Regions from separate parts of the Homo sapiens genome. Here regions 2 and 3 are each linked to region 1. Evidence: fine-mapped expression QTL. A gene starts in region 1. Each other region holds a variant in brackets. All regions are shown on one strand. Distances are between the middles of the regions. Region 1 holds the start of NAALAD2 (N-acetylated alpha-linked acidic dipeptidase 2). Region 2 overlaps UBTFL1 (upstream binding transcription factor like 1). Region 3 has its middle 24 kb from the start of NAALAD2.

Region 1 (4,246 bases):
TCATATTTGAGGTAACATTGCTCATTCTTGGAACTCTTTAATCTAATTTTAATTTAGGGAGATTATTCAAACTGGCAAACTGTGTTAAATAATGCATTGATTTATTCTATTACTCAAACTTCAATTAGCAATAAAAAACACAAAATGAGCAAGAAAAAATAAATTTAATAAATAGCTTAGCAACTTTATTCATTAGTTTCTACCTTCTCTTTCTTCAGTAAATCTTTTCCTGGAGATAATTTTGATCTGCCTCTTGAGGGCTATGTAGTCAACAGTGAATGGTCCAATGGGTAGCAAATAGAAAAAGCCAAGAGTCTAAAAATTGACAAATTACACAATCAATACCCAAAATGTTTATATGTACAAAAATAACATTTGATATTGTTTGAGACCTTTGTGTGTCACCTGTTAAACACTGGAGAGTTATTAAAATCCCAGTATTATTTCATAATGTCACACATAAAAATAATTCTGAGTGCTCTTGGAAAATGTTTCTTAAGCCATATTTGAGGGGTTTAGTTACTTCACTGGATATTGAACCTTTTGAATAATTCTATTCTAATTCCCTATATTTGGTGTTGTGTGTATGCATATAAGGGGGAACAAACTCACTTTGTTATGAAAATGTTTTTTGAAAGATGTTTCTCTCTAAAATAAAAAACACTGGAGGAGTCAGTCAAGGAATGTCTAACAGGCTAGTAGCTGAAAAAGCTGAAGTTAGTTGGGACTTAAATTGCATGCAAACATTTAGAAATCAACAGTTCATTAAGGAGGTTTGCTTCAAAGTTAAGTACCAGGTATGCTACAAAAGTTTCAAGAAATAAGTTATTAGGCATACCTATCAACAATTATGTTCAATTGATAGCCATTGAAATACAAGGACAAAAAAAAGTTATGTCCCAGAAAAATAAATTTCACTCTTCCAGTCACTTGTTAGGAGCAAAGGTGCATTACCTAAAGCTATCAGGGCTGCAGACAATGCTGTGAAGTTTATCCTAGATATACTACCATCTTTGAAATCAACATAGCAGTTTTGCTTTGGCTGAAAAAACTACTTTTGGTTAGATACGTGAAGCCAATCATAAATTCCTAAAATTTTTCTCTGAGATGAGATGGTTGGATGAAGGCTATTTACAATGGCCACTATTTTGCAAACCCATCTTTAAAGAGAAATGCTTCATGAATGTAGCATGGTGAGGACAGGGGAATGACAGGGACCATTGCTAATGTAGGGGTCAATGGAAAGCTTCCCCTTCACCCTCTGAAGTTTTGCTGGAAAATCAACTCACAAAAGGCAGACTATTAGAAAAAAAAAAGGCTTACAAATTTATGAATAACATAGCATAAGGGAATCGTAGTAGAATGATTACCCAATAACCAATGAGGTACAGATGATAATATACCCATCTTTTTAGAGGAAAGGAAGATGAGAATGTGTGTATAATTTTAAGAGGGTAGTAAATGAATTTTAGGGAAATTCAATGGGCTTGAAGAATATGCAATGGCCTGGGACAAAGTCTGTTGGCCCTACAGGGCAGACGAGAGTTTGTAACAGAAGGCTGCCAGTTGTATTGACAGACTGCAGTCCTTCTTCCTGAGATATTAGTTCGGTTAATGAAAACTCAGGAAAGAAACTCTTTTTTTTTTTGTTTGTTTGTTTTTGCCTTTAGTAGTTCTGGACTTTAGGCAGATAAGGGAACTTTAGAGAACAGCTTTATTCTGTGCTATGGGAGAGACAAAGGATTGAGAGAGAGGAGCTGGAAGAGAGGGGTATGGTCAGAGAGACCCCCTGGCTTCTTCGGTTTAGCATGTCAAAGCACCATATTTTGGGAAATTGGTGTCTGAGCTTTAGCATTAAGAACAGACTCTCAGTAACTACTGGCAGTGCAAGGTCCTTTCAGTGATTACTTTTACTAATGTGAACCTAAAACATTCCAGTGAGGTAGGTAAAAACCTCAGTTAAATGAGTGGAAACAGAATTACAGAAATGTGGAGTTTTGTTTAAGTAAAGGGGAACAAAAAAACGCAATCCCATCGATTTTGATGCTGACAGTGATTGCGGTATTAGTGATGTTAACAGCTTTAACAGCGGAGCACCCAGGACCAGAAATCATTTCCGAGTCTGACGAGTGGGAAATTACAGCAGAGAATCTGGAAGAAGAATAACCAATAGATCAGGAAAAGCAATACTTAAATTCACTTCTGAGCCGAAACTGGGCATTTTGGGGGATGGGCATGGCAAACAGCAGTAGAGTTCTTTAGGAAAAAATTAGGGACGTTTTCAGCAGCTCCCGCCACCTACTATGTCCGGGTTACTGCGGGATCCACAGAATGGAAGTTGCCCGCCAACAGGAAGAATGTCTCCTCCCTCTGCAGGGCTTCCTTTCCCCCATCGAGGGCCCCTGGGGACCACAGGTCCCCAGCGGGTAGGGCGGAGGCGTGGCCTTGCGAAGGTCAGCGGAGGCCACCCAGAGCTCACAGCCTCCTGCCAGCGCGCTCTCTGTTTCTCTGCAGCCCCGAAGCTCGCGAATGTAGCAGGCGCCCCAAGCTCGGTCCTCAAGAAGCCATGGCGGAATCCAGGGGCCGTCTGTACCTTTGGATGTGCTTGGCTGCTGCGCTGGCATCTTTCCTGATGGGATTTATGGTGGGTAAGTGAACAAAACACTCTACCCCGACTCCGGGGCTCGTGATTCTCTGCAGAGATAAAGGGAGAAATCCTGGAGCTGGAAGGGATTGGGCTGTGCGCTAGCCCTGGCCGGCTGGGCTAGATATGATAAACTCTGCACATTTCAGCAAAACTAGAAACCAGATGGAATGTATTTTGGGCTTGCTAATAGATAAAGTGTGCTTGAAATTCAAATTTATTAAATGTTCACTGAGTTCACTAAAGACAACCTACAGCTGTCACTGTCTGCAGGGATGAAAAAAAATCGTTTTATTTCCAAGCAACATTAGTGAGTCAAAACTTTCAACTAATACGGGCAGCATTAAAAACAAAGCAAAACGAAACAAAGCAAAACAAAACCCTGCTCTATACGTAAATAAATATTTGTGGAATGTTCCCTATGTGTCAGGGACTAGAGATCCAGGGAAGAACAACAAAAGCCATGCCTTCATGCATAACGTGAGAAAATGAAAGAGCTTCTCTTAAATAAAACTCCTTTTAAGCATCTAAAAATTATATTACATATCAGAATTTACAGGTTTTCTGCATTTAATATAAACATTATTTTTTAAAGCTCACCATGATCTACTTGTCAGATAAAGGCTTTTTGGGGGGAAGGACAGAGGGGTGGCTTCTAGTTTTAATAAAGTCAAAGTGATTTTGTGTGTATGTGTGCATGTTTGTGTATTTTTTTTCCTTAGGCTGGTTTATTAAGCCTCTCAAAGAAACGACCACTTCTGTGCGCTATCATCAAAGTATACGGTGGAAACTGGTATCCGAAATGAAAGCTGAAAACATCAAATCATTTCTTCGGTAAGTTTATTTTACGTATTTGATCTTAAAAATCATGTTTAAAATATCACAGTGAGAAGCATATTATACCTGGTTATATGCATGAGGACAGTCTTCTCTGTGTGAAATTACATATTAGTCATCAACTTTTTTTTTTTTTTTAATGTCTCTTTACACCAGTCTTGGGGTGAAAAAGTAGGTCTTTCTTCCCTAACTTTATGTAACAAAAAGTATCTGGTTGGCTTATTGAGAGATGTTTCAACTTCATGTAACTTTGGATCTAACTGAATGTTATTCTTTGTTCATCAGTGCCTGGGTTTTAATCAGCAATTTTCTTAGATACCATATTCTGTCAGGGAAAGTTAGATGATGGTTGACTAAGTGATTTAGTGGAAAAGTGATCAAAGTGTCTGATTCTGTCTGCCAAAAGTTAAACCTTTATCCCATCTTGCAGGTATAAATTTGTTTTTTACAAATAAGACAAAATGAAACCAAAAAGAATCATTGCCATTCCTCCAGCTTCTAACCATGAAAAACAGTGGAAATTGGGGGAGTGATCATAAACTCCTTAAGAACAATGGCCATGGTATTTATTTCTGTATTCAGACTCTTTCAAATGGGTGTTATTTTTTAAAATCAGCTTTAGTGAAGTATAATTTACATAAAATAAACTGCATCCCTATAAAGCCTACAATTTGAGAGTTATGACAGACGTATGCTATGCTGAACAAACCACCTCCTCCATCATGCTACAAAAATATTCCATTATGCCCTTTGCAGTTTATTCCC
Region 2 (4,246 bases), 45 kb before region 1:
AATTGGATCTCTGGCTCAAGACTTTGTCACCTGAAAATTATGCTGCATACAAAGAATCGACCTATGCTAAGGGTAAGAATATGGCCATGACAGGAGGCCCGGACCCCAGGTTGAAACAAGCAGATCCACAGTCCTCATCAGCAAAGGGTCTGCAAGAAGGGTTTGGGGAGGGGCAAGGGCTCCAGGCTGCAGGAACAGATTCATCACAGACTATTTGGGTAAACTGTCATGTCTCCATGGAACCAGAAGAGAACAGGAAGAAAGATAGAGAAAAGGAAGAAAGCAGTAACTCTTCAGACTGCAGCAGTGGAGAAGAAATAGAAGTTGATGTCTGAGGGCAGTGGCTCTAGTGCAGCTTCCTTGTTTTTTTTTTTTTGTTTGTTTGTTTTCTTTTCTTCCTTCCTCCCGCAAAGTAGGACAGGTTGGGAAGAAAGAAGCAACTTGGTGCAGCACTCTCCTACATCAAGATTATGAACCTGGGAGGAACTCTTTGGGAAGAATAAATATAAGTTTGAGCCAATACTGGCCTTATCCTTAAAAAAACAAACAAACAAATATCATCCCTTTCCCGAGGAACTTTATGCAATTAAGGCTTCTGAAATGAAGAGATGATTACGTTGTGGGGTACACACTGTATTAGACTGAATATTTCTGAAGCAAGAAGCTTTGCTTTACTCATTTTTGTCCTGCCAAAGGTGGTAGGGGGATACCCATAAGCCTGGGACCCAAACTTCCCTGTGGAAATGTTTTTCAGGACTCCTGCACTAAATCTAAGGTCGGGGATATTTGATGAAAGGTGGGGTAGGTGTCTTAAGAGAATTGTCCCACTCTTGATATCTCTCTCCTCCCCTCCCTGAAGTAAGGAGTTGGCCATTCCCATGCCTGGGAGTAGGGAGTAATATTTCTACATGTATATCTGACTCAGTTCTCAATTAGACTTTTCTTGCTTATTTCAAAAAAAAAATGAAAATACAAAATAAAAAGTTACTGATTTAATCTGAAAGAGCTCCTCCACAGAATCATTTGTGACACTGGGTGCAGCTTCTCTAAGTTATATCTTCATTTATTCTTGAAGCTCCAAATTTTTCCTGCTGCTTCAGGTGCAAGTGAATCTCACCTTTAGCATTCAGGATTGATACAAAGATGTAGAGAAAGACAGATATAGATGAGTACACTATCCTGTTTCACTATCTGCTCTATCTAAGAATTCATGCACCAGTGTCACATTGTTTTAATTTTTTGGTTTACTAATATGTTTGAAAATCTACCTAAAGTTAGTGCCTTCTCAGTATACCTTTATTCTATTAAACATTTCTGGCTATTTTCATACTTCGTTCTCATGAATATTAGCATCACAGAACTAGTTGTATTCTTTTTGTATAAAAACCATTGAATAATGAGTGTTTATTTTGTCCCTAGATATCTTAGGAAAATTTTACTTATAAGTTTTTTCTAAATAAATAATAAGTTTCAGAGAATAATGGCAATGTTTACCATTTTTATACCTCTAATTTCTAAATGTGTTGGATTAAAATATCCAGAAGAATGTTAAGTAACAACAATAATCTGTTCTTGGCTTGCTTCTGACTTTTAACCTAATGCTTACAGAATTTAAAATCATGAAAATTATGCTGATGTGTACATTTGAAATAAATTATTAAAAATAAGAAAATTGCTATTTACTTTTATTATTATTTGCTTTTAATTTTTAATGCATATCGATTTTTAACAAATTTATTTTATCATATATTTATGTA[A/AT]TTTTTTCTTACTGTATTAGTCATCATCCTGCAGAGAAACAGAACCACCAACATAGATAGAGAAACAAAGTGACAGAGAGAGTGATAGAATAGTAGAGAGGAGAGAGACAAAGAGACTAATTTTATTATGAAGAATTGGCTCACAAAATTGTGGAGGCAAAAAATATCATGATCTGCAATCTGCAAGCTGGACACTTAGGAAAGCCAGAGGTGTAATTCAATCTGAGTCTGAAGGCCTGGGAAGCAGGGCAGCCAATGGTGTAAACCCTAATTCAAGTGTAGGTGAAGATAAGACGAGATATACTAGTTAAGCAGTGAGACAGGACAGAAAGGGTCACACTCCTCTATCATCTGCCCTTTGTTCTATGCAGGCCTTAAATGGGTTGGATAATGCACATCCCATACTGGGGAGGGAAGCCTACTTTACAGAGACCAGTTCAAGCTGACACATACAATTTACCATCATACTTTCATTTTCTTACAGATTCTGGAGATTTAGGTATTTTTATACGAATTCTAGATGGCTGATGGGTTGAATTTTTTTTTTTTTTTTTGAGACAGAGTCTGGCTCTGTTGCCCAGGCTAGAGTGCAGTGGAGAGATCTCGGCTCACTGCAAGCTCCACCTCCCGGGTTCATGCCATTCTCCTGCCTCAGCCTCCCGAGTAGCTGGGACTACAGGCTCCCGCCACCACTCCTGACTAATTTTTTTTGTATTTTTATTAGAGACGGGGTTTCACCATTAGCCAGGATGGTCTCGATCTCCTGACCTTGTGATCCACCCGTCTTGGCGCTGGGATTACAGGCATGAGCCACCGAGCCCAGCCAATGGGTTGAACTTATTTAGAAAATGTGTTTGCATATTATGTCCTTTGTTTCTCTTAACATCAAGTTTGCAAAATTAACTTTAAAGATCTGATTCTTTTTATTTCCAATTCAGGAGATAATGTAAGTCACATTTGCCACTAACTAGTAGTAAGGCCCATAGCCCAGGCTAGATGGTGAGATGTACAAATTCAATTGGGGCTTTAGTAGTGATTTTAAATGAAATGTTTTTAAGTTTATTCAGCACCTACTCTTTTTAAGACTTGCCCTCCTTGTGTGGGATACAGAGATTAAAGGTACAATTCTTTTTTGTTTGTTTGTTTTTCATTTTTTTAATTATACTTTAAGTTTTAGGGTACATGTGCACAATGTGCAGGTTAGTTACATATGTATACATGTGCCATGCTGGTGCACTGCACCCAGTAACTCGTCATCTAGCATTAGGTATATCTCCCAATGCTATCCCTCCCCCCTCCCCCCACCCCACAACAGTCCCCACAGTGTGATATTCCCCTTCCTGTGTCCATGTGATCTCATTGTTCAATTCCCACCTATGAGTGAGAATATGTGGTGTTTGGTTTTTTGTTCTTGCGATAGTTTACTGAGAATGATGTTTTCCAATTTCATCCACGTCCCTACAAAGGACATGAACTCATCATTTTTTATGGCTGCATAGTATTCCATGGTGTATATGTGCCACATTTTCTTAATCCAGTCTATCATTGTTGGACATTTGGGTTGGTTCCAAGTCTTTGCTATTGTGAATAATGCCGCAATAAACATACGTGTGCGTGTGTCTTTATAGCAGCATGATTTATAGTCATTTGGGTATATACCCAGTAATGGGATGGCTGGGTCAAATGGTATTTCCAGTTCTAGATCCCTGAGGAATCGCCACACTGACTTCCACAATGGTTGAACTAGTTTACAGTCCCACCAACAGTGTAAAAGTGTTCCTATTTCTCCACATCCTCTCCAGCACCTGTTGTTTCCTGACTTTTTAATGATGGCCATTCTAACTGGTGTGAGATGGTATCTCATTGTGGTTTTGATTTGCATTTCTCTGATGGCCAGTGATGATGAGCATTTTTTCATGTGTTTTTTGGCTGCATAAATGTCTTCTTTTGAGAAGTGTCTGTTCATGTCCTTGGCCCACTTTTTGATGGGGTTGTTTGTTTTTTTCTTGTAAATTTGTTTGAGTTCATTGTAGATTCTGGATATTAGCCCTTTGTCAGATGAGTAGGTTGTGAAAATTTTCTCCCATTTTGTAGGTTGCCTGTTCACTCTGATGGTAGTTTCTTTTGCTGTGCAGAAGCTCTTTAGTTTAATTAGATCCCATTTGTCAATTTTGTCTTTTGTTGCCATTGCTTTTGGTGGTTTAGACATGAAGTCCTTGCCCATGCCTATGTCCTGAATGGTAATGCCTAGGTTTTCTGCCAGGGTTTTTATGGTTTTAGGTCTAACGTTTAAGTCTTTAGTCCATCTTGAATTGATTTTTGTATAAGGTGTAAGGAAGGGATCCAGTTTCAGCTTTCTACATATGGCTAGCCAGTTTTCCCAGCACCATTTATTAAATAGGGAATCCTTTCCCCATTGCTTGTTTTTCTCAGGTTTGTCAAAGATCAGATAGTTGTAGACATGCGGCGTTATTTCTGAGGGCTCTGTT
Region 3 (4,246 bases), 24 kb before region 1:
TTGTCTATTTTTGCCTTTGTTGCCTGTGCTTCTGAGGTCTTACGCAAAAAAATCTGCCCGGACCAATGTCCTGGAGCATTTCTCCTATGCTTTCTTTTAGTAACTTCATAGTTTCAGGTCTTAGATTCAAGTCTTTAATCTATTTTTATTCGATTTGATTTTTGTATATGGTAAGAGGGGTTTAATTTTATCCTTCTTCATTTAGTTATTCAGTTTTCCCAGGATTATTTATTGAAAAGACTGTTCTTTGCCCAGTGTATGTTCTTGATGCCTTTGTCAGAGATGAGTTGTTTGTAAATGTGTAGATTTATGTCTGAGATCTCCATTCTGCTCCATTGTCCTGTGTGTCTGTTTTTATGCCAGTAGAAATATATTGGCAATAATTAGTACAGAAAAGCTGAAACAATGAAATGACAAAAGTGAATTATATTGATATAATTCATTATGCTCACTAAATGCAATAGCATGCAGCTAGGAAAAACAATGTAGTGCACACAGTATTAAAATAAAACACAATTCAATATACACAGTGCTCACAGTGGCCATCATTAGAGTGTTGAAGAAGGGGATGTAGTCAGCAAAAGTTGTACAGGTGACTTCAAAAGTAATCATAAGCACTTATGATTACTTTTGGCTTAATTTCTTAAACCAAGACTGGAGACACAAGTGTTCATTGTGTGCTTATTCTATATATATATTATAAATATTTTATAAATATATTGTTTCTATTCAGTATTTAATAAAGTAAATCAATAGAAAAGGTTAAAAAGCAATGCATACATATTTCAAATATTTTTTTGCTCCAAATTATATAAGCATTGCATAGTTATTGCCCTGGGCCAGGTAAGGTGGCTCACACCTGTAATCCTAGCACTTTAGGAGGCTGAGGCAGGAAGAGAGCTTCAGCCCCAGAGGTCAAGGCTGCAGTGAGCCGTAATTGCACTACTGCACTCCAGCCTAGGTGACAGAGCAAGACGCTGTCTCAAGATAAAAATAAAAATAAGTTAATAAATAAATAAATATATGTGTATATATTAACTGATTTTATTAAGTATATATATAGTTAATATATATAACTATACATATATGTAGTTACTGTCTTGGTCTATAGTCAATCTTACAGTGCTTAAGACATTGATACTGAGAACAGTTCTCCTAGGTATATGCTGTGTTTCTGGGGTGACATGATGCTCTCATCAGGCCTCTGTGAGCCTAATTCTATCTTACATTTACCCCACTCTTCAACAACAACTTGGGAAGGTGTCCCTAAATGTTCCTAGGTGAACCCAAACCTGTGGCCCTCAACACGTTTCTAGGTAAAGCAAGCTCCTGACATATCTGTGGATATCCTCTCATTAGAAGAAGGGGGAAGAGACCATCTCAAAGAAATTCATTTAATATAGCTTTTCAGCATTAATTTTATTTTGACAAAGAGACACAAAGTAAATAAAATTTCTAAAAAACTATAAACTTTCAAGCATTTTCACACTAAGTCTAGCCCTGCTCACATGCCAGGGAATTATAAAGGTGATCTGTTTCTCAACCTGACCAAGATGCTATAGTAATTAAAAATAAACTCAATCCCTGGATCTCTACCAAAGGGTCTTTTCATATGGATCAAAGTGTATCTACTCATCACATTCTGGAAAAATTATTTGTCTGGAAATAGACAAATTATCCAAAATATAATAGAAAT[A/C]ACAGCCTCTGGAAAGGGCCAAATAAGACTCTTAATGATACAACAGCTAAATCTAGGTCTGATGCTTATTCTGTGTGGACAACAATAGCAGAGCTAATGGCTGATTTGTGGGAAGTAAACATTATGTTTGCAGAATCGTACACGATTTCAGTAGAAGGGCAAGGAAATTTCAGTTGGGAACAGATTGCTCCATGGTAATGTGATCACTATGTACCCAACAATGGCTCTTTCTTCCTAGCGTCAATGCAGATGTTGTTTTATCCTTAACTGTTATCATTTCTGTTTCTAATCACATAAAAGTGTATCCGTTACATATCTGAAGTAAATTCATACTAGTGGTGTAACATCTCCAGCCATTTAAGTGTAAAAAGAGAAAACGTATGATGTGTTTACTCACTGTTTTATACTCTGTAACGCATGAAGATCCTTTTATTCATTGCCTGTACTTTTATTTTTAAACTTTCTGAAACACTTTATGTTATATCCAGCATAGAACTGAGTTTTCCTTTTTGATTTAATCTGACAATATTTTTTTCCTCTAATAAGAGAGTCAAGCCCACTTACTTTTATTGGTAAATTCTGTTTGGTTATATTTTGGTTACAGCATGTTATGCTATGATCTATATGCACGTATCTTCTTTTGCTGCCTTGTTTGTTTTTATTGATTTTGTTTTGATGTTGTGATATTTGGAAGAGTTAAATTTTTATTCTGATGGCTACCTTATGTAACTTCATAAAATCATCTCTTTCTTTAGACAGTAGCTAATGTCTCTAAACTAAGAACAATGGTATTAACTCTTTCTTGTCTTCCCTATGTGATCTTTCATCTCCCAATTTGATATAATAATATTAACTTTGTTTCCCCTGATGCCATTAAGTATGCCTACATTTCTATAAACAGTATCCTTTGACTCCCAGGCATTACAGACGAGCAGTCAGTAAAATCATTCTGCAGAATACCTTCTTTTTCCTTTTCTTCTATTTTTCTTAGTTGTATCATTTCTATATTGCCAGAGCACCTACAGTTGCATTTCTTTCTGTCAGCTTTATCCAGCATTTGTTTTTGTCTTTTATTTGAAGTTAAATATATTCCTTGCTCACTACGACACTGGGGAGAGGAAGGTTTTTGTTGTCATTGTTGTGCTTGTACAGTTGCTTATTTAAAAACATTGGCAAAAACAAACAAAAAATGTATGTAGATGGAATGGAGATAAGACAGAAAATGAGAGAGATTGATGATGAGTGTGCTTATTCTAGACTGGGAGGGGTGCTGCACTGAGTAGTGTCTCAAGGCTGCAGGAAAGGATGGTTGATTGTGAGCAGGTGGAGTTTCCACTGAAGGAGAGAAGTCCTGCCTTCAACAACCTGTGCAGAACCAGGAACTGGTAATGGTTCAAATCAACTTACAGACCTGGAGGTAGAAATTTAAGAAAGCTCGTTTAGCACCTAGTTTCCTAGAAAATATTAGCTACTATTTGCTGAGCATCTGTCAGTCTGTCTGCAGCATGGAAGATCTGAGTACAGGGGAGACTGGATTAGTAACAGTGGGTCAGAAAATTATATAATATTCAACCAAAATTCCTGCTTTACATAGACGGCACCTGGTATTTCCAGAACTAGAAGGTAAAGAAATTATTTGTGCTTGAACTTGCAGAAAACTGCCTTTTCCCTTCTTCTCTTGCATCTTAACCTGGAGCTTCTCTTTTCTTGAGCCTCAGTGTCCTTCCCAACTCAATTTATAATTGACTTCCTGCAGTTTCTCCTTAGGACAGGGCTTTGTTTTGGGGGTGGTTAATTTGTAGGGTTCATAGGATACAGACCACTCACAGCACTGCTTTTTGCCATCCTCACTCTCAGCTGTGAGTTGAGGCCCAGGAAGCCTTCTGCCAGCCTCAGCTGCTGTTCTCAGATTAATCTGCTAAGTTCTTTTTGCCTAGTAGGAATCTCTGAATTTAGGAACATAGATGTTAGCAATTGTATTTCTAGTTTTTCCAGTTCCCAGGGCCATTAAAGATTTTTTTCCTTTCCTTTCCTTCTTCCAAAACAGTTGGTGATTCCCCTGGGTCTCTGTGGTTTAACCTCACAAAAGGTTCATGATGACACCCTGTTACATTGTTTTGTCATAGTTAATACCTTGTTATCCCAGTTGCTCAGTCAATTTTTGTGAGAGATTCAGGGATATTAATAAAACTGTGCTGCTGCTACTAGCATCTTGCATAAAAGCCCTATGAATTAAAATGTTTATTTTACGTGTGATTTGAACTTGTAATTTTTATTCAAAGTTTTTCAACAGAGATCCAGAGAAGACCCTCTTTATATTTGTAGTTTTGTGCATTGCAACACTTTTTAGTGAAAAAAAAAAAAACATGAGAACAACACAAGTGATTTTAAAAGAATAAACCTACAATCCATTAATTATAAAATGAAATACTGTGCAGGTGTTAAGAATGAGGGAATCAATAAGAACTTGTGTTGGGTAACTATAAACTCTTAAAAAATAAAGTATATGCTCATGTGACCATATTATCGTTTAAAAAAATACAAGCATAC

What was found. PIP is the estimated chance that this variant, and not a neighbour inherited with it, causes the effect.
Region 2: its variant is the best candidate, but not a certain one, in a credible set for the expression of NAALAD2 in thyroid (GTEx, PIP 0.56).
Region 3: its variant is the best candidate, but not a certain one, in a credible set for the expression of NAALAD2 in putamen (GTEx, PIP 0.69).

What each region holds. Positions count from the first base shown.
Region 1 is chr11:90,132,193-90,136,438 of GRCh38, forward strand. NAALAD2 (N-acetylated alpha-linked acidic dipeptidase 2) reads left to right here and starts at 2,471. Exons shown (of 19, transcript NM_005467.4): 1 at 2,471-2,648; 2 at 3,367-3,478. The coding sequence starts at 2,567. RefSeq lists an enhancer at 2,375-3,078.
Region 2 is chr11:90,086,797-90,091,042 of GRCh38, forward strand. It overlaps UBTFL1 (upstream binding transcription factor like 1), which reads left to right. Exons shown (of 1, transcript NM_001143975.1): 1 at 1-335. The coding sequence ends at 335. Among named protein-coding and RNA genes, the nearest start is that of UBTFL1, 3.0 kb to the left of the region's middle. The variant A/AT (reference allele first, on the strand shown) is at 1,758.
Region 3 is chr11:90,108,287-90,112,532 of GRCh38, forward strand. No RefSeq gene overlaps it. Among named protein-coding and RNA genes, the nearest start is that of NAALAD2, 24 kb to the right of the region's middle. The variant A/C (reference allele first, on the strand shown) is at 1,697.